4 linked regions of the Homo sapiens genome follow. The protein of the gene in region 2 interacts with the protein of the main gene of each other region in a pairwise test. Each region holds a gene or a part of one and is shown on either strand. Other genes may lie near its edges.

Region 1 (8,011 bases), on a different chromosome or scaffold from region 2:
GATGATCTCCTCCCCAGAACTTTCCTGCCGAGGGCTCTCCTCTTCGTTTTCACTCTCGGCACCTACAGAAAGAAAGGGAGTCTACAGCCCCCAGCCCCTTTCAGAACACGGGGTTTGGTCTCTCTTCCCTCCCCCGGGTGTCCCCCAGAGTCCAGGCCCCTCCCTGAGCCGGGACCACCGTCTTGCCGGGACCGCAGCCCCTTCTTGTGCCCCTCACCTCTGTGAGCATCGTTGGGGCTCTGTTCCGGACCCTGCAGATCCGGGCCCCACAGCGCAGTCTCGGGCTCCATCCCAGAGCTCAGGACTGCAGTGTTCCAGGGACCCTGCGGGGGAAGACAGCGATGAGCGCACACTGGGAGCTGATTTTGCACTTTGCTTTATTCCCCCTGAACCTCACTCCCACCCTGCCCCGCCCCATTCCTCCTTGTGTGAACTTCAGTGTCCTCCCACCCCATTTTTCTGGGCACGGGTTCTTGCTGTGGCCCCCTTCCCCTGCAGGCCTGATTCTCACTCCAGATCTTAAGCGCACAGCTAAGCAAGCAGGTGAATTTAAGAGCGTAATTAAAAACTCATCACTCATAAGCCTTTGAACCCAGGATGGGGGCTGGAGCGGTCTCTGACATCCACAGGGGAAGGAGTTTTTCACCCCATACCTCTGATGCCCAGAGGCTGGGAAACCTGTTATTTGCTAATCAGAGGAAGCTCATTAAGACTCTAATTTTCCTCTTAATGGGGCTGCTAATTGAGACCAATAAACTTTTCTGTGCCCCAGAGTGAACCGAGGCTGCCTGAGACACTTAAAGGGTTAAGAAAAAAAAACACCCCAGTTTCCCAGAGGAGACAGAGGCCCTCTAAAAGGACTGGGGCACTTCCCTGTTATCCAAGCACAGAAAGAGGGTCAGGCTGGAGGTGGGGAGAGGGGCAGTTTAAAGCTGCATCTGCAGGAACCGCCCAGAGGAAGAGAAAAAGTAAGGAGAAGGGGAGGATGGATGCTTGTGTGAACACCTGCGGCAGACCCAGTGCCTGCCATGGTGTCATTTCTCTCACCCAGTCCTCCCACAGCCTGGTGAGGAGACCCAGGAATCAGGCTGTCCATTTTACAGATTAGTACATCAATGCCTGGGGAAACCTCTCCAAGGTCAAGGCTGGGAAGTGGCAGAGCTAAGATGATAAAAGCAGGGCTCCATATCTGGCTCACCCCTGTCTCTGAGAGCACGAGGTGACCTTGGGAGTCATGTGAGACTCATGCTCATGGGAGGCTGGCAGGAGACAGGTGATGAGGACAGCTCATGGGGAGCCTGCTGGCAGTGAGAATAGGCTGGAGAAATTCCTGGGACCCAGAGGTTTCCCAGGCTAGAAAAGGAGGAGTTGGACCCAGGGACTAGGCCTGCTGGTCTGCACCCATGAGCTGGAACCATACTCCCCACCAAAGCCCTCCTATCCCCACTCCTGCCCGGACCCTCCTTCTACTCCTTTTGTCCTGCTTTCTTGAGGCTGTTTCCCAAGCCTAGCCTGGCACTGAATAGGTGCTCCAGAAACTTTGTTGAATGAATGAATGAGTGAGATGTCCCTAGCCCCTGGAACACCTGTTTGGTCTAATGCCTTTAAAGATCAGTTTGCAAGGGGATGGCAGCAAAGGAGCAGGAGTTCCAAGTGGCCCCCTGGTAAAATAAATAAATAAATAAATAAATAAATAAATAAAAACAGCCAGCTGTCACTCCAAAAATGGTGAGATGAGTTCAGGATGAGGGAATGGGGCCACAGGAACAAAGCGCTTGAAGGAGGTCCCACACCATTTACACCCTGCAGAGAATCCCTGGGTGGGGCCTGGAAACTTTGGATGGCTGTGTGAGGTGGGCGCTGTGTGCACAGGGGCAGTGGGGCAAGGGAGACATGGCAGGAGGCGCTGAGAGGTGACCAAGGTGAAGCAAGACTGGCTGCACCCTGCCAAAGAGCGGTAGGAGAGACAGAAGTTAGCGTTTAGGAAGTAAATTAATTTCTTCATCTCTGCAGCTACTTAAGCTCCGAGAATCCCCCCTCCCCGCCTGTAAGTGTCTTTGGGGTGGTGGAAGCGGAGACCTCTGCCACACTGGGGGCTGCCTGATGTCCGGTCCGGGAAGGATGCCCTGCTGTGTTTGCTCGGGACAGGTAAGAGTTTGTGGACCTCGATGGTCTCCAAAAAATTCTCCCCTAGTGGTCCAGAGTAGGAGGGAAAGGGTTAATGACAGGGCCGACACAGAGCATGGACGTGGGAAGACCGAGGGAGGCCGAGGCGCTGGGAGCCCAGGCGCCAGGCACGCCAGCCTGAGACCTCGCGATGGCCCCACTGCAGAGGGAGGGAATGAGGAGCCGCCTCCCGAGAGATGTGGGGAACGGCCCAGGGTGACCCTGACATGGAGGCGGCGGGAATGCGGCCGCCCGGCCCGGCCCCCCCACCGCTTGGCTCCGGACTTCTGCTCCCCCGGAGCCGCGACCCCCGTCCCGCTGCTGATACAGAGCCTGGGCATCCGCCCCTGCCCCGGCCCCCGGGGTCCCGGCTCCTTCCAGCACTGCCAGGCTCCTCCAGGGCTGCGCTGGCAGCGCTGGTCCCCGGCCCCGGCCGATCCCTCTTCCCAGAATCCCCAGGCTCCCCTCCCCCGCCACCGACCCCCGCGCTTCCCAGAATCCTCGGCCCTCCGCGCCCCCCGCCCGCCCCCACCCCGGCCACAGCCCCGGGCGCGGGTGGGGGGCTCAGGCCCGGGCTCCCGGCCCCCGCCTCCCGGGCCCCATTGTTCCCCGGCGGCCGTCCCGGGCACTCCAGGCCACCCCCCGGGAACCCAGGCGTCCCCAACTCACGGCTCTGGGGTCTGGGAAAAGCCGGAAGGCGGAATCCAGCCCCAGGGGACTTAACCCCTTCAGTGCCCTGCCTCGGGGGACGGACTGGGCGCCGAGGACTCTGGGGTCCTTCTCAAGGGGTGATTCCAGGCTGAGGACCCGGGGACCAGTTCAGGGTGACTGGGACGGAGCAGGAAGTGACCCCAGCTTCCCGGGCCCCTCTAGCCTGGAGTCAGAGCATCAGCTCTATGGGATTTAACCCTTTGCCTCCCGCAGCCTGGGGAAAAAAGGGGACAGCGGTGGGAGCAGGGAGGAGGCTGGGACGACGCCCCTGTCCCCGTCTCCAGTGGGAGCAGGCAGCGTGGGCATCTGGGAGAGCCCCGATGCCCGCGAGGGTCCCTGGGCTTCTGGCCGCTCTTCATTTCGCAGGGGCTCCGCCGGCCGCGCCCGGAAAGCCCTATCTCAGATTTGGCGGCTGCTGATCCCCTGAGGCCAGTCTTTGTTTGGACTAACCCTGGGATGGGGCTGGGGTGGGAGCAGGGGCTGGCAGAGCAGACCTGAGAGGGAACACCCTACGCACTAAACATGGCCTTAATGCTTGATGGAAGTCATGGCTGCAGGAGTTGGGACTGCAGGAACAAGCACAGCCGGGAAGGATTTGCAATAGCCTGTGTTCCAGCCCCTCTTCTCCAAACACCTCCCCTCAGAGGAGGAAACTGAGGCTCACGGTGGCAGGAAAGAAGCCAGTGGGGGTTCCCTGGCCAAGGAGGGAGAACCTCTTTTCTCATAGCTCAGAGGGCACCCGGCTCACAGCAGAAGAAACCTTTAAAAACCCAGGAACACTGGTGGCCTCTCAACGTCCAAGTTATCTATGCTCGCAATTTTTACAGCCTTTCTTTCTTGTCTTCCTTATCACAGTCCCATGGGATAAGGTTGCCCATCATCCCCATTTCACCGGGGAGGAAACCAAGGTGTGAGAAGCGACTGGTGTACTTAAGGCCACCTGATTCTTTCAGTTCAACACACTGCATTATTATTCCTGGGCACTGTGGTTAACACTGGGGTGGGCATACCTCTGAGATGCATGGAAATTGGGCTTTCTACCCTTGGGAAGTTTGGTATTGTGTATGTGTTACAAACACAGAGGAATCCTGGGAGCGTGCAGAGGGCTCTGTCCAGAGACTGAGAGGCTGGGGGGAAGAATAAACCAAAGGTCAGAAATTACTAAAGGCAGCTGGGTGCGGTGGCTCACGCCTGTAATCCCAACCCTTTGGGAGACCAAGGCAGGCGGATCACTTGAGGTCAGGAGTTTGAGACCAGCCTGGACAACATGGTGAAACCATGTCTCTACTAAAAATACAAAAATTAGCCAGGCGCAGTGGCTCATGCCTATAATCCCAGCACTTTGTGAGGCCGAGGCAGGCAGATCGCTTGAGCCCGGGAGGCAGAGGTTGCAATAAGCCAAGATTGAGCCACTGCACTGCAGCCTGGACGACAGAGTGAGATCCTGTCGCAAAAAAAAAAAAAAAAAGAAGGAGGGAGGGAGGGAGAGAAAGAGAGAAAAGGAAGGAAGGAAGGAAGGAAAAGAGAAAACAGGAAAGAGAAAAAATTGCTAAAGGCCAGGCCTGGTGGCTCATGCCTGTAATCCCAGCACTTTGGGAGGCTGAGGCAGAAGGGTAACTTGAGCCCAGGAGTTTGAAGGCTGGGCAACATAGTGAAACCCTGTCTCTACAAAAAACTTAAAAACAATTAGCTGGGCAGGGCGCGGTGGCTCATGCCTGTAATCCCAGCACTTTGGGAGGCCAAGGTGGGTGGATCACCTGAGGTCAGGAGTTCAAGACCAGCCTGACCAACATGGAGAAGCCCCATCTCTACTAAAATACAAAAATTAGCCCAGCGTGGTGGTGCATACCTGTAATCCCAGCTGCTTGGGACGCTGAGGCAGGAGAAGCGCTTGAACCTAGGAGGCGGAGATTGCAGTGAGCTGAGATCGTGCCATTGCACTCCAGCCTGGGCAACAAGACCAAAACTCGGTCTCAAAAAAAAAGAAAGACAACAACAACAACAAAAACAAACAATTACCCTGGCGTGGTGGTGCATCGCTATGGTCACAGCTACTTGGGCTGAGGCAGGAGAATCACTTAATTCTGGGAGGTGGAGGCTGTAGTGAGCCATGATTGCACCACTGCACTCCAGCCTGGGTGGCAGAGTGAGACCCTGTCTCAAAAAAAAAAAAAAAAGTCCGGGCAGGGCACGGTGGCTTATGCCTGTAATCCCAGCACTTTGGGAGGCCAGGGCGGGCAGATCATGAGGTCAGGAGATTGAGATCATCCTGGCTAACATGGTGAAACCCTGTCTCTACTAAAAATACAAAAAATTAGCCGGGAGTGGTGGCACATACCTGTAGTCCCAGCCACTTGGGAGGCTAAGGCAGGTGAATCTCTTGAACCTGGGAGGTGGAGGTTGCAGTGAGCCGAGATCATGCCACTGCACTCCAGCCTGGGTGACAGAGCGAGACTCTCATCTCAAAAAAAAAAAAAAAAAAGATGGTTTGGCGAGGTGGCTCACACCTGTAATCCCAGCACTTTGGGAGGCTGAGGTGGGCAGATCACTTGTGGGCAGGAGTTCAAGACCAGCCTGGCCAACATGGTGAAACTCTGTCTCTACTAAAAATACAAAAAATTAGCTGGGCATGGTGGCGTGCACCTGTAATCCCTGTTACTCAGGAGGCTGAGGCAGGAGAATCACTTAAAACCCAGGAGGTGGAGGTTGCAGTGAGTCGAGATGGCGCCACTGCACTCCAGCCTGGGCAACAAGAGCAAGACTCAGTCTCAAAATAATAATAATAATAATTTTAAAAAAAATTAGGCCGGGCGCAGTGACTCACGCCTGTAATCCCAGAACTTTGGGAGGCCGAGGCAGGCGGATCATGAGGTCAGGAGATCAAGACCATCCTGGCTAACACGGTGAAATCCAGTCTCTACTAAAAATACAAAAAATTAGCCGGGCATGGTGGCAGGCGCCTGTAGTCCCAGCTACTTGGGAGGCTGAGGCAGGAGAATGGCGTGAACCTGGGAGACGGAGCTTGCAGTGAGCCGAGATCGTGCCACTGCACTCCAGCCTGGGCGACAGAGCAAGACTCTGTCTCAAAAAACAAACAACAACAACAACAACAAAAAACACACATTAAAAATTGCCTGGCATGGTGGCTCATGCCTGTAATCCCAGCACTTTGGGAGGCTGAGGCGGGAGGATTACCTGAAGTCAGGAGTTCAAGACCAGCCTGGCCAACATGGTGAAACCCCATCTCTACTAAAAATACAAAAATTAGCTGGGGCTGGCTGGGCGCAGTGGCTCACGCCTGTAATCCCAGCACTTTGGGTTGCTGAGGCAGGCGGATCACGAGGTCAGGAGTTCGAGACCAGTCTGACCAACATGGTGAAACCCCGTCTCTACTAAAAATACAAAAATTAGTTGGGCATAGTGGCGCACACCTGTAATCCCAGCTACTCAGGAGGCTGAGGCAGGAGAATTGCTTGAACCCGGGAGGTGGAGGTTGCAGTGAGCAGAGATCGCACTACTGCACTCCAGCCTGGGTGACAGAGTGAGACTGGACATAGTGGCATGCACCTGTAGTCCTAGCTACTCTGGAGGCTGAGGCATGAGAATTGCTTGAACCCAGTTGGTAGAGGTTGCAGTCAGCTGAGATCATGCCACTGCACTCCACCCTGGGTGACATAGTAAGACTCTATCTCAAAAAGAAAAAAAAATTAAAAATTGAATTTCTTGCTTCTTTATTGATTGATTGATTGATTGAGACAGAGTCTCGCACTGTCACCCAGGCTAGAGTGCAGTGGTGCAATCTTGGCTCACTGCAAGCTCTGCCTCCCGGGTTCACACCATTCTCCTGCCTCAGTCTTCTGAGTACCTGGGACTGCAGGCGCCTACCACCACAACCAGCTAATTTTTTTGTATTTTTAGTAGAGACAGGGTTTCACTGTGTTAGCCAGGATGGTCTCAATCTCCTGACGCTGTGATCTGCCCACCTCAGCCTCCCAAAGTGCTGGGATTACAGGCCTGAGCCACCGCGCCTGGCCTGAATTTCCTGCTTCTTTGGAAAATCCAAAGATGTGGCAACGTGATCCACATTTTCACATGTCAGTAACTGGCTGTTGCTGGGCAGCTTGCGTCTTTACAGGGCACTGACCTGCCAGCTGGTCACCATCCCTGTCATTCCTCTGTGTCCCCAACCCTGAGGCCAAGGTGGCTTCATTATATGAATGGTCCTTCACTGCTGATGTTCCAACTCCCGTTTAACTGTAGGTATAGATTCTGGACCCCTTAGTCTGTGTCTCCAAGGTTCAGAGTAATTTTTTATTTTTAGAGACAGTGTCTTGCTGTCACCCAGGCTGGAGTGCAGTGGCACGATCATAGCTCACAGCAGCCTTGAATTTCTACGCTCAAGCAATCCTCCCACCTTAGCCTCTCAAGTAGCTGAAGCTACAGGTGCGTGCCACCATGCCTGGCTAACTTAATTTAAAATTTTTTTGTTCCTCACAAAACTTCTTCCTGAATAATTTTTTAAATATTTTTATAGAAATAGGATCTCACTATATTGCCCAGGCTGGTCTCAAACTCCTGGATTCAAGCAGTCCTCCCATCTTCACCCCGCAAAGTGCTGAGATGATGGGCATAAGCCACCACGCCCAGCTCCAGAGTAACACATGAGGATGGTGCCTGCTGACATAGTTACATTTATTGAGCACTTATGCACTAGGCACTGTGTTTGCATGTAATGACTCCTTAAACCTCCACAACTCATGGCACCATTATTATTATCATCCTGGGACAGAAAGGGTAAGTCACTTGCACACAGGTCACCAGTGGCAGGAGTGGATTTAAATCCACGCACGGTGACTTCAGAGCCACCGTGGATCCTAAACACGTCTCTCCTGCTCAGATGGGCCCAAGCGTGTCTGGGACCCAAGGGTGAGCCTCTCAGTCCCTCCGTCTTCTCCCTCAGAGTTGGAGAGAGGAGCTGGGAAGGGCAGGGCACCCCCATTTGGGCCAATACATCCTCCAGGAAGAGTCTGGGTGTCCTGCTCCTAGGGATATAAAGGCTGCCATGTCCTCTTGCCCTCAATCAGCTGGCATCGCAGCCATGGCAGCAACCTGCCTGGCAGGGGAGCTCTTGCAG
Region 2 (7,904 bases):
AATGGCAGAAACAAAACACGTGTATAAACTCTTGTATAATCACTGTGACCAATTATATTAAAATAACTAGGCAAGAGAAAAACTAACAACTATCTAGTGCAGCACACTGCAGGCAATTAATTCTATATTATGGCAATACAAAAGCCTATACATGAAGAATACAAAATACTTAATATAAAACATTAATTCATAAAAATCTTTCAGTTACAGAAAGCTGATTTTCCAGTTCTATATCTGGAACTATGACTTTATTTGCACCACGCTTTTTCTATATCATCTAAGAAACTGAAGCGTTGAGTCTCCTTAGAGAGAGAGAACAAGAGAGGGCAAAATTTGAATTTTCAACAATCTTATTAAGTGATATTTTGTGAGAAGGAGAGGTCTTAAGAATGTTCCTTTTTTATTTTAAGACATCAATATTATTTAAGGTATTTCAACCATAAGAATACATCAATTTAGTACATTAATAAACATGTAAAAATGTTTCCAGCACTTTAGTAAGCTGGAGAGGGCAAAGACAGGAGGGAGGAAGTTGTGCCTCTTCATTCCTCTCTCCGGGCCAGAGGTCTCTATTGCCCTCCAAGTGAGGTTTCTGTAAAAAGCAGTCCCAGGTGCACCTGGCTAAGAAGGGGGATGGGGGAAGTCTATGTGGGAAGAGATCTGGCTCTTGGCAGCATTCATGCAGTCCTCTCACAAATATTCTTTCCGAAGCTGTTTCTGTTCCTGGCTGTATATTTGAGTGCTGAGTTAGTTCACCCAGTCGATGTGTGCACACTCATCTGGTGGCTCAAGAATCATGGGAAATTTTCATGTTCAAGAGAATTTTACAGTCTGGATGCTTGATGTGTACCAGGGCACGGTTTGGAGCCTGAAACATGGTGGTAGTGAGTGCCTTGGACTTGTGCTCTTGCCAAACGGTGGAGTCTAAGCCACCCTTAGGGCGTTCCAACCCAGAGCTGTCCTGATAAATTTTACTGGCCCGAGACAAGTACTCCCTATGAGTACTTGTCACAGGGAGTACTTGTGTCTGCCCCCAGCATATTCACGTTAAGTGGAAAGGAACACTTAAGGGCCACTCGAGAAGGGGAAAGAAAATGAGGAAGGCGACATGCAGCTGTGAGCAGGGTGAATGGAGAAGGAAGTGCTGATATGCATTGGCACTGGTGGGAGAGCCTCACAGGCACCTGGAAGCTGGTTAAAATGAGCATTAAGATTCTACATCTTCTATCAACTGATACTACATACCTCTTCCTGACTGCTTCTGTTGTGAGTCAGTGCTAAGCTGCTTGTCTCCATTCCCTTTCTCCAACCAGGGAAGCACCTCCCAAAGTCACTGCTCAGTTCTGGGCAGGACATTTCCTGTCTTCCAGGGTCTCAGAGCACACTCAGAGGGAACAATAGTGGTTGCCTCGTCTGGTTTCCTCCCTGAATCCCTCTGCTGTGGGGTTGTAGGGAGAAAATTAGGGCAGCATCTGCCTAATCATCTCTGGTTCCCCACTAGACCTGCCTGGGCCCACTGAAGTCACAAGGGTCCAGCACATATTAATTATTCAGAGCAAGGGCATGGGCGGGCTTTAGAGTTAGAGAGGTTGGCATGAAGGTATAGCACCATCAACCTATTGCTTTATTAGGTTTAGATATTTACCTCCTGGGTCTCTGGCTCTAAAATGCCCATTCCCATGTCTGGTCCTTGTGTATGAGTCATTGTGACAGCCCTGCCAATCACCTGGCCCAGTGTCTGCTACAGAAAGTGTGCTCTAGGCCGGGCGCGGTGGCTCACGCCTGTAATCCCAGCATTTTGGAAGGCCGAGGCGGGTGGATCACCTGAGGTCAGGAGTTTGAGACCAGCCTGACCAACATGGAAAAACCCTGTCTCTACTAAAAATATAAAATTAGCTGGGCGTGGTGGCGCATGCCTGTAATCCCAGCTACTCGGGAGGCTGAAGCAGGAGAATCGCTTGAACCCGGGAGGCGGAGGTTGCAGTGAGTCGAGATTGTGCCATTGCACTCCAGCCTGGGCAACACGAGCAAAACTCTGTCTAAAAAAAAGAAAAAGAAAGAAAGAAAGTGTGCTCCCAGGAGTCGAACCCTGAGTACTCTTCCTGTATTAGGGCCTGGATATGAAAGGTGAAGCTGGACACTACCTCTGTCCCAGTCAGGCCCATCCTGTACTCTGAACTGTAAATGGGCATGATGGCCAGAGACCTACTTTCCACATTTCACATCCCTCCCCTCAATCCTTACACTGAATGTTTACGGAGCAGCTAGTAAACACTGCCAGGTGCTGAAGATAAAATTAAGAGTGAGAGTGGATCCCTGCCTGCCAACTTCTCAGGTGGCGGAGCTCATAGCACAGGAGAGGCCAAAAGCTCACATTCCTCCTATCTCTTTTTTTCACTGCTTATCCTTTCACCACTGTGATCTTCCCCGTGTCCCTGCTTGGGGCTTGGCCCTGTTTCTCTGCTCTTTCCCAGCCTCCTACTTCCATGGATGATCATTCAATTCTATCCTAAAGGACCGAATCGAATTTCTTTAAAAATCTATTCAGCCAGTTTTATTACATCAGTCATTGTTTCACAATCGAGACTGATCCATGGTCAGAGATAAAATACACTGAACAATTTTTTTTCTTTTTTTTTTTTCTTTTTGAGATGGTGTTTTGCTCTTATTGCCCAGGCTGGAGCACAATGGCGTGATCTCGGCTCAGGCAACCTCTGCCTCCCAGGTTCAAGTGATTCTCCTGCCTCAGCCTCCCAAGTAGCTGGGATTACAGGCGCCCACCACCACACCTGGCTAATTTTGTATTTTTTGGAAAGACAGGGTTTCTCCATGTTGGTCAGCCTGGTCTTAACTCCTGACCTCAGGTGGTCTGCCCCCCTCAGCCTCCCAAAGTGCTGGGATTACAGGCATGAGCCACCACGCCCAACCTTACATTTAACAATTTGAAGAGTATTTTTTGACTCTTTGTGCAGCGACAACTTCTGATTTTCATCTCAGCATCTTCACTCTGGGATGATTTTACTCGCCAAACATTAATGAAGCCTCTACTCTGGGCCAGAACTTTTCTAGGCATTAGGGATAGACCAGATAGCAAAAGCAGTGTTTGACTTATATATTCTAAAATGGAAGCAGATGATGAGCAAAGTACTGTATATACATACGACATGGTGGCCGGTAGCACAATAAATGTTATGTAGATAAATGAAGCAGAGTAAAGGGTTACAGATTGGGGGCAGAGAACAGGGTGCTCTGATAGGTCCGGTGGTCAGAAAAGTTCTCTCTGAAAGCAGTAGGAGGAGTCAGGCAGCCAACTGGGATGACAGCCTTGCAAGGCAGAAGGAATAGAAGATGCAAAGGCTATGAAGCCAGAACTGCTTGATGGGTGTGAGAATCAGCAAGGAGGACAGTGATTAGAGCACAGCAGAAACTGGGAAGAGGCACAGGATAGAAGGAGGGGCCTTGTAGGCCTTGGCTGCAACTTTGCTCTTTATTCTCAGGTGAAACTGTTGGAGGATTTTGAGCAGGAGAGTGAAGGGATCTTTTTTTTTTTCTTTTGAAACGGAGTCTCGCTCTGTAGCCCAGGCTGGAGTGCAGTGGCGCTATCTCGGCTCACTGCAACCTCTGCCTCCAGGGTTCAAGCAATTCCCCTGCCTCAGCCTCCCGAGTAGCTGGGATTACGGGCATGCGCCACCACGCCCAGCTAATTTTTTGTATTTTTAGTAGAGACGGGTTTCACCCTGTTAGCCAGGATGGTCTCGATCTCCTGACCTCGTGATCCGCCCGCCTCGGCCTCCCAAAGTGCTGGGATTACAGGCGTGAGCCACCGCGCCCGGCCCTAATTTTTGTTTTAAAGGATTCCCGTGGCTACTCTATGGAGAATATACTATAGGAAGAAAAGAGTGAAAGCTAAGTGATTAGTTGCAGCAGTCTGGGTGAGAAAGAAAGGCTAGGAATCAGGGTGGCAGTGGCAGAAATGACAAGACGTGATTGAATTGGCAATATATTTGAAAGCAGAGCCAACAATTCATGTTGGCTCTAGAATCAGGGATCCATTCAAAGTAGAAAAACAAAATTATTTAAAAACACAAACATCTTAACAGTTCATTTTTAAGTACAGAATAATACCCAGTGGCCAACGGCACTAATAGCAAGACAAGAAATAGAGAATCAAAGATATGTGGGATGCCTGCAATTGACTATTGGATGCTGATTTTGCAGAACTTTTTTATATCTTGTTACTTAGGTTTTGTGTGTGTGTGTGTGTGTGTGTGTGTGTGTGTGTGTATACCATATTATTTCCCTACTAAAGAAGTCACTGTTTAAATACTACCTTTTTCATGAAAGGCAGGACCCCCTGAGGGTCTTCATGATTCTAAAAGGAAGTGTGACTCCCACAGGGCAGCCAGCAGTGTCAATACTTCTCTGAGTGAGATTTAAATAAGAAAGAAAATGTGTTAATAAAACATCAAGCCAAGAGAATCTAGTGGCCACAGACCCACGAAGGAACACTGAGTTGTGCAAGCTACCTAGGTAGAAGGGTGGCTAATCCTTTCAGTTTGAACAAATTTACCTTCTCTGAGACCGGACTCAGCGCTCGCCAAGTCCTCTGCTAACGCAGGCCCCACAACTAGGAGCTAGGGGAGCCTATCCCAGCCTTTAACTGCCCGCCGAGAGACCTACCACAAGCCGGTGGTTCAGCGACCCAGCGCATCCTTTTCCTGGCCACGCCCTCTTTGTCTACACCCTTCCCATCCCGGCCACGCCCCCACGCCGCCGCGGCCCCCCCACTCCCAGCCTAGCCACGCCCCTCCCCCGTCGCGCCGGCGCACCGTCCGTCCGAATGGCCTCGTGGGCGGAGCTTGCGTAGCCTCCCGGACCCCGGCGCACACCGCCCCCCGCCCCCCGCCCCTGGCCACCAAGCGCCTCCGTGGACACGCACTTCCTGCGAGGGCTCCGTGCGCACCTTGGCCGAGCCGAACCGAGCCGAGTCCTGTCCTTCCAGGCCGTTCGCAATGGTGGATGAGTTGGTGCTGCTGCTGCACGCGCTCCTGATGCGGCACCGCGCCCTGAGCATCGAGAACAGCCAGCTCATGGAACAGCTGCGGCTGCTGGTGTGCGAGAGGGCCAGCCTGCTGCGCCAGGTACGTCCGCCGAGCTGCCCGGTGCCCTTCCCCGAAACGTTTAATGGCGAGAGCTCCCGGCTCCCCGAGTTTATCGTGCAGACGGCGTCTTACATGCTCGTGAACGAGAACCGATTCTGCAACGACGCCATGAAGGTGGCATTCCTAATCAGCCTCCTCACCGGGGAAGCCGAGGAGTGGGTGGTGCCCTACATCGAGATGGATAGCCCCATCCTAGGTGATTACCGGGCCTTCCTCGATGAGATGAAACAGTGCTTTGGCTGGGATGACGACGAAGACGACGACGACGAAGAAGAGGAGGATGATTATTAGGCCCTCGACCCTCGGGCCTCGGGGGGGAGGGCCCTGCACGCCGCCACCCCCTCCCCGCAGCCCTCACCCCGCCAGGAGCCACTGCTCTCCCCCTTGCCCTCCGGTCCCCTTACCTACCCGCGCCCGTCTGCTCTCTCTCTTCATTTCTCCGTAGTGCTTGTCTTTGTTCCAGGAATAGCGCTCCAGTTACCTGCTGCTGGGGTCGGGGCTGGAGCCTCACTCACTCGGAAGTGCTTGGAAGTGTCATCTACCCTGGCCATCCCCGGGATCCCTCCCCTGCTAATCTGAACTGTGTCCTGAACCCCAGCTATTGGCCAGGCCCCTGTTACAAACTGCGCAGACCACCCGTAGCCCTGCTGCTGCCACCTGCCCTGCTGCCAGGCTTACATCTTCCCAGAGAACTATGCTGCCACTTCACATCCACTCACCACATCCCACCTACAGACTACCACCTTTCGAGATCAGGACCAACCTGGAAAATGCCAGAGTTGGCTATGCCTTTTCAGACATTGATTTGGACAGCTCACCAACCCCTGAAGGGGCCGTTCAGCCTGGTTAGTTTTCTACCTACTCCGAGTGTCCTCCCCTGCCCCACCAGATTGCTGCAGGGGCGCGGTGTGCCTGGCAGCCAAATTGTTGACACTTCTTTTTTCCTATGCACTGGTTTTACACAGCTGTCATTTTTCTTTCAAAATTGCAGCAGTCCCACAGATGTGTGCATTTGGACAAATAGTACTTAAAAACAAAACAAACAAGCACTCAGCCCAGCTCCTCAATACTACCTGGAAAAAGCATTGGCATTATTTTCAATAAATATCAAGCACTAAAAAAAGAAATGATTGTCTTTTAATGGTTAAGTGCTATCACTGGCCTCTACCACTGTCACTCTGACTACCATTATTCCCGTGGAAATCAGGGAATACAACCAATCCTAGTATTCCCCGCTGTCATCTCCAGGCTGCTGGGGACAGCTACCTCAGGGCTTTGTCAGGGTTCTGATGCTCCCTTCACCAACGCATTTCTTAAAGCCCTGGCAAAGGGTGTGTTCTCTGGGTCCTCCAGGGTGGCGTGGTTAAGGGTTGGCTGAGCAGACGGCAAAGAGAGCAGTATTAATAATTAGACCATAACAATAGGCGTAAACCTGGACATATATATGTAATGCTCCTAATTCTCTGAGCTTTTGGATTCCTTAACACTGTGCCAGGGAAGTTCTGCCCCTTAATCCTTATTGCCTATGTGCAGCTGTTGAGTTCAGACTCCAGAGAGCCAACATAGTAGATTGTCACTTTCAAACTCCAAATAGCCAACATGTCACTTTCAGGTGCTCCAGCTAACATTAAGTCCCGGATCCTGGGCAAGTGCACCCATAAAGATATAGCCTGATCTTAACAAACATTTCGTTCTCCTTGGACAGACATCCTTAGAATTCCCACTCATAGATGTGTCCCAGATTCCTCCCTATGGAAATTAGCAAGATGCTTGGTTATCTCTTAAATCAGACCTTGTACTGCTATCTAGGGGCTATGCTGAGATCTCTGGGCCTGGAGGGTTCAGAGCAGTGAAGGGGGTGGCTGCTGAGAAGAAGCTGCATACCTGTGTGAGGCCATTGCTCCAGGTTAAGTCATTGAAATGTTTAATGCAGAGCAGCTTGGTTGGGGATTTGAGAGGACTGCCTCTTAGAAAGGTTTAGGAGGATATGAGGGGTTCAGAGTTCTCTTTTATATCTGTCCAGATGTCCTCATTGTACCATGTCTGGAGCCAACTTGACTTTATAACCTTTAATTAATTTAGATAACACATTTCCGTACTGTTTAAGGCCTTTTGAGGCAAGATATTGTATTTGTACTGGTAAACCTCAGTGTTGATTAAATGAGATATGGGTCTTCATATTAATCACCTCATAGGTGCGGATTAAATGAGATCATACCCATGAAGCATTTAGAACTTTCCCTGCTACATGGTGAGCACTCAGCAAACCATGGGCTGTTACTCCTGGGCCAGGGAACAGAAGTCTCAGAAAGCAAGTCTCTGACTCTGAGCCTGGCTTTAGTAGGAAAATGTCAGCGTGAAGAGGAGCAGAGCAGGTTCAGGGAGAATGGAAATGAGAGCATGATAAGACCCCATTTACTTTTTGGAGTCTTATATGAAGCAAGAAACAAAGCTGTTTTACGTGGTGGACAGGCAAAGTTCAGGGTAGGAGTTATATCTCACCCCTAGGATAGCTGTTTCTGGAGGGTGGGGACAGGGTTGCGTATGACTTAATAAAAGAGGCTGAGGCTTGGGTGGAAATGAGATCTGGGGCTCTTCAGGGAGCTGCCGCCTCCAAATCTGAATCAAGGAGACAGCTGGTTATTTAGAATTCATTGATCACTTCTCCCAGTCTCCTTGGAAAATATACAAAACCCCTTGGAAGAGAGAGATTATATTTGAGACATAATATGTGTGAGGCCA
Region 3 (7,021 bases), on a different chromosome or scaffold from region 2:
GGCGATCAAAGGCTTTCCCACATTCCTGACATTTATATGGTCCATCTCCAGTGTGCTTAATCATGTGTCTTCGAACACTTGGGAGAGAAATGAAGGCTTTCCCACATTCCGGACATGCATAGGGTTTCTCACCAGTGTGAGTTCTTTCATGTCTTCGAAAGGATTGACAAGAACTGAAGGCTTTCCCACACTGCTTACATTTATATGGTTTCTCTCCATATTCCTGATAGTCATATGGTTTGTGTCCAAGGTGAGATCTGATGTGCCTACTAAGGGATGAATGATGCATGAAGACTTTCCCACACAAACTACATTCACATGGTCTTACTATAGTAGGAATTTTCTTGTTCAGATTAAGATTGAGAATCTGACTGAAGGCTTCTCCACATTGATCATATTCTTTACTTTCACTGAGTCCCTCTTCCATATGATTTCTGGAAAAAATAGAAAGCAAGATTTAGTGGTTTGTGACTTTATATTTATTAATAGGTATTCGACTTACATTTTTACCATAATCGCGGAAAGGGTAAGTTTTCAGGCCTGTATGAATTGTTTGAAAGTGAATGGATGGAATGCTCTGCAAGAGAGCTTGACAGTAGCTATCACCAAAAAAGTGATATCCATATATACAGTTTCTTAATACTATTTCCAAGTGAATGATTTTGCAACACTGAACATCTATGCCACTTTTTCTTTTTCTGGTGAAAAAGTTGTAGGAATAAATAAATCTGAAGCTGGGCTTACTGGTTTGTTTACTTATTTTTAAAATTTCATGACATACTAAGAAGGAGACATTGCTTTATCTTGTCAGTGCAAATTACCTTAAAATTCTCCCCTGATTTTTGTACCAATCTTCAATGCTCTGGTCTTCCCATTTTTTTCCTAAAATATAGTCAGAAAAAATCCTTATGAACTGATAGACATTACAGAAAAATGACTAGATTCTAAGTTCATGATAAGGTGCAAACAACCCTGATTTATTCACCCAAGTATTCCCTTTTCCACATTAGACATCATGAAAAAGCATTAAAAAGCAAGAAATACTTCTTCTCTAACTGACTAAAAGAAGGAATGATGTCATCCTTACCTACACAGGCCAGGTTTCTAAAGGTTTCCCGCATCACATCTCTGTAGAGTTTCTTCTGGGAAGGATCCAGCAAAGCCCACTCCTCAAGTGTGAAGTTCACAGCCACATCCTCAGAGGCCACTGAGTCCTAAAACATCCCAAATATGCAATGCAGGAGGAAGAATGAGATGACAGTACAGGGATGTAAACCCAATTCATAAAAGTTCACAAATGGCTAGGTGTGGTGGCTCATGCCTGTAATCCCAGCACTTTGGGAGGCCAAGGCATACAGATCACCTGAGGTCAGGAACTTGAGGCCAGCCCGGTCAACATGGTGAAACCCCATCTCTACTACAGATATATGAATTAGCTGGGCGTGGTGGCGTATGCCTGTTAATCCCGGCTACTCAGGAGGCTGAGGCAGGGGAATCGCTTAAACAAGGGAGGCAGAGGTTACGGTGAACCAAGATCACGCCACTGCACTTCAGCCTGGCTGACAGAGAGAGACCCCATCTCAAACAAACAAACAAAAAACAAAACAAAAAAGTCGACAAAACGATGTGGCAGTCTCCAAACATTTATTTTATGATAAATAAATATGGTTGTCAGAATTCCGTCTACATTCACTTTCTCATAAATTTAATTACCCCATGAAAACATGCAACTGATCTCTACATTTTTACTGTAGTCACTACAAGTTTTATTGGTCTCTAATGGCAGGATCCAGTTCACCTTGGAGAAACAAATAAAATGCTATACAAAGAAAACAAATTTTGGCCAGGCCTGGTGGCTCACACCTGTAATCCCAGCACTTTGGGAGGCTGAGGCAAGAGGATCACAAGGTCAGGAGTTTGAGACCAGCCTGACCAACACAGTGAAACCCCGTCTCTACCAAAAATACAAAAAAATTAGCCGGGCATGGTGGCATGCACCTGTAATCCCAGCTACTCGGGGGGCTGAAGCAGGAGAATAGCTTGAACCCAGGAAGCGGAGGTTGCAGTGAGCTGAGATCATGCCATTGCACTCCAGCCTGGAGGACAGAGAGAGACTAAGTCTCAAAAAAAAAAAATTTAAGATCATCATTCCTACCAGGAAAAACTTCCATTTCCTTTCATATCTCACACCAATCAGCATTCCATGAAACACAGGGTAGGCCAGGCGCACTGGCTCATGCCTGTAATCCCAACACTTTGGGAGGCAGAGGCAGGCGGATCACCTGAGATCAGGAGTTTGAGACCAGCCAGCCCAACATGGCAAAACCCTGTCTCTACTAAAAATACAAAAAATTCACTGGGCGTGGTGGTGGGCACCTGTAATACCAGCTACTTGGGAGGCTGAGGAAGGAGAATCGCTTGAGACCAGGAGGCGGACGTTGCAGTGAGTAGAGATTGTGCCACTGCACTCCAGCCTGGGTGACAAGAGCAAAACTCTGTCTCAAAAAAAAAAAAAAAAAGAAAGAAAGAAAGAAAAAAAGAAACACAGGATAAAAACTGAAAAAGGTATCCATGAATAAATAAATATACACTGAAGAAGTGAAACCATTTTCTTCTGTTCCCTTCATCAAACATGAGAGGCCAGAAGGCCCGTAGAAATCCACGTTCTGACAAAATCCAGCTGACCACACTTTCCTGAAGGATTCCAGGCCATCAGACGTAGACAGATCAAGTTGGTTGAAAGAAAATATTCCTCTGCAAAAGAAGTCATTTTAACCTGCATGTATAACATTTGTTATAGACTCACTGATTCCTTTGACTCTGTCCCATTTCACTAGGCTAGGAAGCTACTGGGAAGACAGAACTCAGGCATGAAGAAGAAGGTATGGCAACTTAGGCAGCGCCCCCTCACCCAGCAAAATCCCCAGTCATGAACGTCAAGGGCAGTTTCCCACCTATTTTTACCTTACATACACAAACATACTAAGAAGACAAAATGCCAGAAGAGTTTTTTCTGGCAGATACATAACAAGGTACCCTATGACTTGCTAACCTTGAGGAACAGGTTAAGAGTTGCAATTTCTGAGGGATTTCATTCAAGTCCAGATGGTTTGATGGTGAATTTGACCATGATTATAAAATACACGAAGGGATCAGCAGTGCTTTTCTCCAAAAGAACATAAAATCCTCTTTCTCAAATTTCAAGAGGAAATGATTCCTGACCAGTCACTATGTGATACTACATTGTGTAATGTCAAGGCAAAATAAAATAAGGGGAAAGATGGGTTCTTTTGGTTTTCTTAGAAATGGGAACTTGCTCCGTCATCCACACTGGAGTGCAGTGGCATGATCACAGCTCACTGAAGCCTTGATCTCCTGGGCTCATGTGATCCTCCCTCCTGAGTCTCTCAAGTAGCTAGAACTATAGTCGCAAGACACCATGTCTAGCTAATTTTTAAATTTTTTGTAGAGATGGGGTCTTACTTTGTTGCTCAAGCTGATCTCAAATTCCTGCCTCAGCCTCCCAAAGTGCTGGGATTACAGGTGTAAACCACCACACCTGGCTGGAAAGATGGGTTCTGAGAAAGAATGAAATGTCCTCAAGATAGCCTCTTACAAAATATTTTTTAAATTCTATAAATCCCCTAAAAACTGTTGAAGAGTCAACAAAAAGTTCTTCTCCAAATGTAGCAGGAATAATGAATATCTAACAATGGTCAAAGTCTTCTGAAGAACAACATGATAGCTTCCCTAACCTTTAACAAGAATTCTGAATGCTGGCCAGGTATGGTGGCTCATGTCTGTAATCCCAGCACTTTGGGAGCCTGAGGCAGGCAGATCACTTGAGTTCACTTGAGTCAGGATCATTTGAGTTAGGAGTTTGAGTCTGACCTGGGAAACACGGCGAAACCTCGTCTCTACTAAAAATACAAAAATTAGCCAAGCATGTTGACGCGCACCTGTTACCCCAGCTACCTGGGAGGCCGAGGCAGGAGAATCACTTGAACCTGGGAGGTGGAAAGTGCAGTGAGCCGAGATTGTGCCACTGCACTCCAGCCTGGGTGGCAAGACTCTGTCTCCAAAAAAAATAAAAAAAAAAATAGGAGAACCATGGTAGGCACTGAGGAAAAAAGACCACATATCTTTCTTACAATACCACAGAAGGCCACAACCCAGGCCAGGAACAAAGGCTCACTAACAAATCATATGATTACAAAATATGTCACACCTCAGGTAAAATGCTCAATTAAAGCCCAAGAAGGAAGGTCAGAGACAAAAAAAGAAACAAAAGCAAGGGCAACTAATAGAAAAAAGTAAAAAATATGGTAGATATTAATACAACTGTATCAATAATCACTTTGAATGTCAATAGTCCAAATATAATTAGAAGACAGATGCTGTTATAGTGGATTTTAAAAACATAGTATGTTGGCTAAAAGGAAACCACTTTAAATACAAAGACACACATATTAAAAGTAAAGGGATAGGGAAATATATAAAATGCTAACATTAATTAAAAGAAACATGGCATGGCTATCTTAATATCACAAAGTACACTTCAGAGAAAGGAAAAAACACAGAGATAAGCCAGGTGCAGTGGCACATGCCTATGGTCCCAGCTACTTAGGAGGCTGAGATGGAGGATCACCTGAGACCAGGAGTTCAAGGATATAATGCGCTATAATTTATTGTGAATAGACCCTGCACTCCAGCCTGGGGAACAGCGAGACCTTCATCTCTATAAAAAAAATTTAAAAAAAAAAATTTTTTTGGCCGGGCGCGGTGGCTCACACCTGTAATCCCAGCACTTTGGGAGGCCAAGGCGGGCGGATCACGAGGTCAGGAGATTGAGACCATCCTGGCTAACACGGTGAAACCCCGTCTCTACTAAAAATACAAAAAATTAGCCGGGCGTGGTAGCAGGCGCCTGTAGTCCCAGCTACTCGGGAGGCTGAGGCAGGAGAATGGCGTGAACCCGGAAGGCGGAGCTTGCAGTGAGCCGAGATCGCGCCACTGCACTCCAGCCTGGGCGACAGAGCGAGACTCCGTCTCAAAAAAAAAAAAAAAAAAAAAAAAAAAATTTTTTTTTTAATTAACCAGTTGGGGTATCACAAACTTGCAGTCAGCTACTTGAGAAGCTGAGGCAGGTAGATTGCTGCAGCCTGGGAGTTCAAGGCTGCAAAGAGCTATATGATCACACCACTGCATTCCAGCCTGGGAGACACAGTGAGACTCTGTCTCTAAAAAAAATAAATTAAATTTTTAAAATAAATAAAGAGATATAAGTGAGCATCACATAATGATAAAGGACTCAACATGCCAAGAAAACCTGACAACCCTTAGTGTGTGTTTGCATAACAAGCGTTGCAAAATACATGTGGCAAAATACAACTGATAGAACTGCAAAGAAAAAATACACTAATCTACTTGTATAGTTGGAGACTGCAGCACCCCTCCAGCAGTAATTAAGAGATCCAACAGGCAGAAAATCTGAAAGGACATAGTAAAGTAAATAGCATCATCAAACAACTGGATTTAATTGAAATGCATGGAATACTTCATCTAACAATAGCAAAACACAAATTCTTCTCAAGTTCACAGGAATATTCACAAAAATAAACCAAATACTGGGGCATAAAACACACCTTAATATGAAAAATTTTAAAAAATCATACAAAGTATGCTCAGACCACAAGTCATTCATCTAGAAATCAATAACAGAGATAGTTACCAACTCCCCCAAATCTTTAGAGATTAAACAACACAATTCTAAATAAGCACATGGATCAAAGAAGTCTGAGAAATCAAAAATAATTTTTGACCTAAAATGAAAATGAAAACAAAATTTATCAAAAATTAGGGTATGCAGCAAAAGCAGTGCATAGAGGAATATTTACAGCATTGAACACCTACACCAGGAAAGAACAAGGGTTTATAATGAATCATCTAAGAGTCTACTTCGGGCTGGGTGCAGTGGCTCACGCCTATAATCCCAGCAATTTGGGAGGCCAAGGCGGGCAGATTACTTGAGGCCAGGAATTGGAGACCAGCCTGGACAACATGGTAAAACCTCGTCTCTACTAAAAATACAAAAATTAGCTGGGTGTGGTGGCGCATGCCTGTAATCCCAGCTACTCAGTAGGCTGAGATACAAGAATCACTTGAACCTGGGAGATGGAGGTTACAGTGAGCCAAGATCATGCCACTGCACTCCAGCCTGGGCGACACAGCAGGCTGCTGTCTCCAAAAAAAAAAAAAAAAAAAAAAACAGAAAAAAGAAAAGAGTCTACTTCAGGAAAACAGAAAAACAAGAGAGCAAATTAAACCCAAGTAAGCAGACAGACAGACAGAATAATTGGAGAAGTCAATGAAATGGCAGGAAATCAATAGAGATTAAAAAAAAAAAACAGAAGTCGGTTATTGGAGAACACCAATAAAACTGATAAACCTCTAGTCATGGTAAGAAAAAAGAAATTACTAAGATCAGAAATGAAAGGAGGCAAAAGTAAAAACTAAAGAACATTTGACAAAATCTACCATCCACTCACGGTGGCAAACTGGGAATAGAGAACTTCCTCCTCAGAAAGAACATCAATGAGGAACCTGCAGCTAACATCATACTTAACAGTGAGAAACTAGATGCTTTCTACACAAGACCAGAAACAGGGTAAGAATGTCTTCTCTCACCACTACTATTCAACAACATCCTTAAAGTCCTAGATAAGCAACAAGACAGAGGAAATAAAAAGTATATCGATTTAGAAGGAAGAAATAAAATTGTCTTTGCTGCATAAGACATGATTATATAAAATATATAGATGGCATATAAACATATGAAAACATGCATATTTTGTCACTGGGGAATTACAAATTTAAAAATTAAAGACTAACACAACCTTTATTAGAATGGCTAAAATTTAAAACACTGAGAACACCAAATGATGGCAAAGATGTGAAGCAATAGGAACCCTCATTTGTTACTTGTGGGAATGGAAAACAGTGCACCTATTTTGGAAGATGG
Region 4 (6,979 bases), on a different chromosome or scaffold from region 2:
AGATTTAGCTGAACAAGATAAGGCAAGCCTGGGGTGGTAAGGAGACAGAAGATGATGCTGGGGGTTATATCATGGAAAGTAGCTAATCCATGTCATAATTATCTGGAGCCTAGAGCCAGCTAATTAGATGACTGTTCTCCAATACAGTTGGCATTTTATGAATATAGATCTGTGAAAATAAAGCAGAGGAGGATCACAGTGGCACCCTTGGCAGCATACACAGCAGGAATTAAGGGTCCCAGTGTGAGCTGAGAACAGGAATGAAACACCAAGTAAATCTAGAAACACTGGCTCCAGTTGTCAGGACAGGAAACAGGGCTGAGGGATATTTTGGCTGAAGAGGTGACAAATACCATGAGCAGTACCCAAGGGGTCAGGAAGCCTTTTAAGGCTTGGGAATCATGTGAAGGACTCTGGTCTGGGAAGGACCCAATCTCTTGATAAGTTAGGGGTATGACCTGGAGTTCTCAAAAAAGGTGATGCCAATCCCAGCACAGTCGTGGTATTGTTCAAAGTCTGTACTGTTCAATATAAATATAATGCAAAACAGATATGTAATTCTAAATTTTCAAGTGGCTGCATTTAAAAAAGTAAAAAGAAACAGGGGAAGTTAATTTTGATAGTATATTTTATTTAACCAATATATCCAAGATGTTATCTTGTCAATATGTGACTCTAGGCACATTTCAAGTGCTCAAATGCTATGTGTGACTAGTGGCTACCTATTGGACATCACAGCTCTAAACCATGCTAAAGTCAGGAAAACACAGGATATTTTACTAACTACTGTGGGTTTTCAAGGTCACTGAAGGCTGTTATTGTAGCATCTCCAGTTATAGTTATTAGGATTACAATTTACAGTTCGGTTGTCTTAAAGAACAATGCTTTACATCCTAGGTTTGATTCTGGCCTCTGTCCATTACTAATTGAATGGAGCAAGTTACTTAATCTCTTTGAATCTTAGTTTTCTCACCTGTCAAATGAGCAAAATAAGTATCCTCCTAATGGATTCCTAGGAGACACTCATCAAATAGCTGCTCCTTTTGATGTCCCATTACTTCAGACATTAAATTTTTCACAGGTTTCTCCTGGGGAATTGTTTAGGGTCCAAGTCTCATCTGCTGGTGGCTTTAATTCTTGCAACACAATTCTGCTACCTCTAACATCTATCTTTCTTATCACACTCAGACACCGGAGGAGCAGATGCACCAACTCTAACCTCCTCCTTTTCCTCTTAATTCTTCTTAGGTGCAAAGTATTCAATAAGCCCGCTTCTCTGGTTTAGTGTTTTTGTTTGTTTTCTGTTCCTTATTGGTTCCCAACACAAGTAATAGCACCCAACAATGGCTCAGCCCCTGAGCCCAGTGTTTGGATACAGAACCCAAAGTAGATCTTCTGTCCTTCATGAAGTGTGTTTATAATTATCACCTTGAACCCTACAGCCTACTTATGTGTCCCATCTACTGCTTTCCAGCTCCAGATCTTACAGTACTTGGACCTAAAGAAGGAGCAGGTCTATAGGTTGACTGAAGTTTGCTATGTGCACTGTGGAGCATAATAAAACTGTATCACTGATCTTTCATCCATCAACTGACATCACAGACAATATAGCACATCATTATTTACCGTGCTAACCTTTAGTGGTTTCATTCTACCTAAGTTTTTTTTTGCAATTGGATTACAAGTTGAGCACCCCTAATTTGAAAATCTGAAATCTGAAATGCTCCAAAATCTGAAGCTTTTTGAGCACCCACATGATGACATAAGTGGAAAATTTCACACCTGACCTCATGTAAGGGGTCACAGTCAAAACACAAGCAAACAACACATATTTATTCAGCATCCCCAAGGGGAAAATAAAATTACCTTCGAGGTAATGAAATATAAATAAATTCTGTGTTTAGACTTGGGTCCCCTCCCCAAGATATTGCATTATGTATATGCAAGTATTCCAAAATCCAAAAAAAAAATCTGAAATCCTAGACATCTCTGGTCCCAAGCATTTCAGATAAGGGATACTTGACTTGTATAAGCTCCTTGAAGGGAGGGCTCAGGCTTCAATAAAGAGTTAACCTTCCAGGATCATTGTATCCACCCCTGTATCTCCCACAATACTGCGCACACAGCAGGGGCTCAAGCAATAACTCTGCCTACATGTTAGTTTTCTGGTGGGTAGAAACTAATTTGTAGAAACAAAAAAATCTACATGTATGGACCAATAGTGTCTGAGGTTCTCAGCAGGAACCATCAAATTCTGCAGCAAGCACATTTTCCTGGCCTACTACCACTCCAGCCTTAGAGGCAGGCACCTGAGTTTTTCCCAGGTCTGAAGGGACACTTCTGTCCAGCAATGGTTACTGGTTGAGTTGGCACAGGAAAGGCGTTGGGTGCTATAACCACTCACAACCTAATTCCCCTTCCTCAGACGATTTTCCTAGGAGTGAAAGACCAGCTCCAAATCATAGGCCCGCCCTGCCCCCAGATCTGTCTCTGGGCCGGGTGCCCTTTCCATAACACACACTCGCCACTGCATGGGGGACAGACATCCTTCCGGTGTCTTGGAGACTGAAAAACCCTAAGATCCCTAGTGGTGATTCTCCAAAAACAGAACCTAAATATTATAACTTTGGGGGCAGATGAAAGGCTGTAAGGATGAAAACAGAGGGAGATGAGTGGGTGAGAGGTGGGGTAGATAGGTGAGCGACCTTATCTTCCTTCTTTCAAAATTCAACCCACTGCATCAGGCGACACCCGTTCCCCTCGAGAAGGCCCCGGGTGGGGGCCGAAGTGGGATAGGCCAGGCCTGGAGTGCGGAGAGATGGAGAAAGCTGTAGGGTCTGGCAGACATATCCTGTGCTTACCACGATCACCACTTTGGGGGTGGGGCCCTTAACCTCCCGCTGTACGGTGCCAAACCGCTGGCTGTACATTTTCGAGTCCCCTTCGGGACGGGGGCGGCGTCCGCCGCGTTTCCCCCAACCGTGGCGACCTGCGGGACCCGCTTCCGCGACGCAGAAGTCTGGTTGCCATGGTGCGCCTCGCGGGATTAGGGGCCGGTAGAGGTGGGCGGGTCGGGCGGAAGTCGGTCTGGTCACCATGGGGGCCGCAGACGCCTGCACTCGGGACTTCCTCTTCCAGCTGAGAAGCTGAGCCTGCGCAGTCCTCACCCCGCCCCTCGGCCAAATCCCGCCGACCTTGCTCCCTTCCTCCAGGGTTCATCAGAATGGCAGAAAAAACCTCTAGCCCAAGAAAAATCAAAGCTCTAATTACAATTCCAGTTGACTTTGCTATTTATATCTTGTAATGGTCTAAAAGTATGAAAAAGGTTAGCGAACATTTTTTGGGAAGCTTAAATTTTGCACTATCTGTAGGTTAATCTTGATGACGGTAATAATCACAGGAAAACCTTATATTTGTGTAGTTCTTTACAATTTCCAAGATATTTTCACACACACAGCCTTTTAACCTCACAGATTTTTTCTGAGACAAGGTCTCGCTCTGTCGCCCAGGGTGGAGTGCAGTGGCGTGATCATGGCTCCCTGCAGCCTCGTCCTCCTGGGCCTCAGCCTCCAGAGTATCTGGGACTACAAAGCCTGCGCCACCACGCCCTGCTAATTTAAAAACAAATTTTGAAGAGACAGGGGGTCCCGCTATGTTGCTCAGGCTGGAACTCCTGCTCCTGGGTTCAAGCGATCCTCCCCACTGCCCCTCCCGCCGGCCTCCCAAAGTGTTGGAATTACAGGGTGCGCTACCGCGCGTGGCCGCAAATATCTTACAGGGTTGATAGAATAGCAAGTAATACTATCCTTATTTTCCAGCTAAGGCAAAGCTCAGGGAGCCTAAGTGCCTTGTCAAACCAAATAACCAGTAATAATAATAATTTTTTAAAACCTGTTAATAAAATCTTCCTATTTGCCATTGGCAGAAACCAGGGCTTAGACTCAGGATATCCTAGGATGGGGGCAGATCAAATGGACTAGTGGGGCAGTGGCACGACCTGGTGGAGCATAATTAAGAGTCTGAGGGTCACAGTGGACCAGGGTCAGGATGTGGATCAGAAGTCCAGTAACTGGTTTCTGAGAATCAGGATCCAGGCAGAACAGGAAACACAAATCAGGGAACCAGGACGGACCTGCAGCACAGGTGGTAACCACAGTTGCATTTCCAGTCAAGAGCAAGGTGGTAATACCTAAAAGCCAATTAAGAATGACACTGTGATACTCCCATTCTAAAGTGGGGGTGAGCATAGAACACTTGTGAGCACATGCAACAAATCAGTACCTACGTCAAACTGACATATAATAAGTACAACTAATGTGTATGCCCTCTTAAGGACGCAATTTACTGTAAATTAGCATTCCTTAATCATTTGTAAACCACCCACTTCGGATTTTGTATGTGGTATGTTTCTAAATACGAATTCCATTTCCTGAATTGCTGGTTCAGCTTTTCAGCCACGAAATAATGTTTTTCTTCTCTTTTAATAATTCTGTCATTTTGTGTTCTTTTCTATAACGGTTCTTTCAATTGCAGTTCAGTAAAATACGCATTTGCATTTACTAAGAGTTTACGTGGCCTGAAACAGAAAACAAACAAATTAGGTGGTCGTCTCGGTTTCCTGGAGTGTCCAGAGGGGCGGTTCTTTGATCTTCGAGTCCAACGGGCTCCGGGCCCGCCCGTCGGTCCGGGCGGAACCACCCCCACCACACATCCTCCGGGAAGGCGGCAATGAAAACGCCTTGGGCCCGAAGTACGGCTTGGGAAAATCGGCGCAGATTCGGGGCCGCCCGTTGGGGATTCCCAAGGTTGTGCAGCCCAAAGGGCCTCGTCGGAATTTCTGAGGCGATGGGGTAAACCGACCCTTGGCGACACCCGGCCGCACTCGAACGTCCTAGGTCGTCGAGCCCCGCCCTCACCCTGGGCGAGCTCCGAAATTTAACCCCGGTTCGGTTTTGCCTGTTTTACCACTATTTGAAGAGGGGGACTCAGCTTCCCTCTGGCCCTAGCCCAAGTACTGGGGTTTGCGCCGGACGGAGACCACGCCCCAGGGCGGCCAGGCCAGGGGTGATGGGTGACGAGCGGTGCCTCCAGGGCCCCGGTGGGTGACTGTGGCTGGGAACTACGGGCTTTCTCGCCCCGGCGCCCCCTGGCGGACCCACCAGCAGGTTGAAGGTGTCCGGCCAGTGCTGAGCACCAAGAGCCTCAGCCTTCAGCCAACCCCCCGCCCCCGCGGCCTAGGTAAGTGAATCGCTCAGGGTCCTTGGAAAGAAGTGACCTTGATTTGATCTTCCCACCCACTATCCCAGTTTCTCAGAGGCAGTCAACACTGTTCCCACCAAACCACTCCCAAAAGAAACACTAAGCATGTAAGTAAGTGGGACAATAAAAATTTAAAAATAATTTTAAAATAGAACAGCTTAGAGATAGAAACTAAATTATTTCCAATTCCTACTGTGCCCCAAACAAGGTTCACAAAAGGGCTGTCCTCCCAACAATTTTCTGAATTCTATATATTCAGCATTAAATTCCATGATAAAGTTGGAAATCCATTCACCATTTGTAATACATATTGATGCATTTAATAAAATTGCATGGGCCGTATCTTTTGCATTTCTGTATCCTAGTATTAAGTACAGTGCCTACCACAGGCCAGGTTCTCAATACTTGAATAAATGACACAAAAATAGCCAGGACCAGCAAGTTTTTTCTGGGTGGGCTTCATAGAATCTCTGTACTTGCTGGAATCACCATGAAATCCATGGTCTTCAGCTTTGCATTTTCAGCCACATAGTTATATTGAGTTATCCTCAGGTGAGCAGTGAGACCCTTGGGAGCGGATTCATGGTAGGGTGGCTTTGTAATGTGTCACCTTGGTGAGGCTATGTTTCCCGGAACTCTCTTCCAGTAAGATGGGCCACAAGAGACATTTTGCTTGATAACCGGAGGGCGGAAGTGAAGCAGCAGCACATTGTTTTTACACTTGGAAGGTTGGTGCTGGGGCACCAGGCGTTGTTGCAGTTCACACGTTGCCATGTATCTGCTAGATCACCTCGTTGGTGTGGGCAGTAGTCAGGCCTGCAGCCAGGCCTGCAGCTGCTCCACCTTCCCCAGGATCATCCTTTCAGCTTCTCTAATTCCTGGGCCAGATGCATATTTAACTCTGTGAGGAAGGGCACCAGCTTCTTCTGCAGGACACCCACATCATCGAAGCTGGAGGTGGTGAGAGACTGACATGGGTTCCAGGCCATCCTCGTGGGTTCCAGCTCGTGCTCGTGGGCTCCACTGTGTCCTCGGTCTCCCACACTTTACATCCATCTTCCCTTCCCGAGTGCCTGCCCTGCAGACTTCAAGCTCCAGCATTAGATGCAAAGACAACAGCCTTACAGAGACTGTTTAACCAGCTCCCACAATGGCATGCGGTCAGATCCCTATAATAAATCCCTTAAAATACATATATACATAATCTTTATCTTAGTGGTTCTGCTCCTCTGATTGTACCCTAACATAAATGGTCAGCAGAAGCTTAACTCATGAGTCTAAATGTCAATCAAATAAATTTCATATAGATCATTGTCAAAATTACCAGAATACTGGGGTTGGGTGGTTGGTTCCTGGGGGAAACAAAGCAGTATCAGTCTATCCAGTCTTGACTAGGGCTGAACTAGTTAGGATGGAATAAAGGAAGGGGTGGGGAAGGTGGCAGAGGCTGGACTGTATGAGACAGAACTGGGAAATGGCTAATCCATGTCTGAATTACTTAAAGCTGCAGGGCTGGGACTAGGGTAAGGCAAGGGAGGCACACAGGATACAAAGTTTAAGGAGGCACTCACTCAGTCCTGGCCCTGTAAAGCTGGCTAACAAATTACAGGTCTAATCTTTTTGGCACTTTATGAATGAAGAATTGGGAGAGAGTGAGGTAGGGCTGAGCCAAGACTGGCTCTTGGGCAGGACTCGAAGCAGGAATTCAGCCTCCTAGAAC

What was found.
Region 1: the proteins of LDOC1 (region 2) and ZNF629 interact in binary tests that used the Homo sapiens proteins (3 or more experiments, as listed by UniProt).
Region 3: the proteins of LDOC1 (region 2) and ZNF564 interact in binary tests that used the Homo sapiens proteins (3 or more experiments, as listed by UniProt).
Region 4: the proteins of LDOC1 (region 2) and CFAP53 interact in binary tests that used the Homo sapiens proteins (3 or more experiments, as listed by UniProt).

Annotation. Positions count from the first base shown.
Region 1 is NC_000016.10:30,784,193-30,792,203, forward strand, and holds the start of ZNF629 (zinc finger protein 629), read right to left. Parts: upstream 3,014-8,011; 5' UTR 2,836-3,013; intron 324-2,835; 5' UTR 291-323; coding exon 218-290; intron 82-217; coding exon of another isoform or gene 63-81; coding exon 1-62. UniProt on the Homo sapiens protein: May be involved in transcriptional regulation.
Region 2 is NC_000023.11:141,174,130-141,182,033, reverse strand, and holds the start of LDOC1 (protein LDOC1), read left to right. Parts: upstream 1-4,904; 5' UTR 4,905-5,012; coding exon 5,013-5,453; 3' UTR 5,454-7,904. UniProt on the Homo sapiens protein: May have an important role in the development and/or progression of some cancers.
Region 3 is NC_000019.10:12,527,483-12,534,503, forward strand, and holds part of ZNF564 (zinc finger protein 564), read right to left. Parts: intron 1,215-7,021; coding exon 1,088-1,214; intron 883-1,087; coding exon 822-882; intron 435-821; coding exon 1-434.
Region 4 is NC_000018.10:50,263,475-50,270,453, forward strand, and holds the start of CFAP53 (cilia- and flagella-associated protein 53), read right to left. Parts: upstream 3,022-6,979; 5' UTR 2,931-3,021; coding exon 2,862-2,930; intron 1-2,861. Other genes in the region: MBD1 (methyl-CpG-binding domain protein 1), read right to left, coding at 6,155-6,344. UniProt on the Homo sapiens protein: Microtubule inner protein (MIP) part of the dynein-decorated doublet microtubules (DMTs) in cilia axoneme, which is required for motile cilia beating.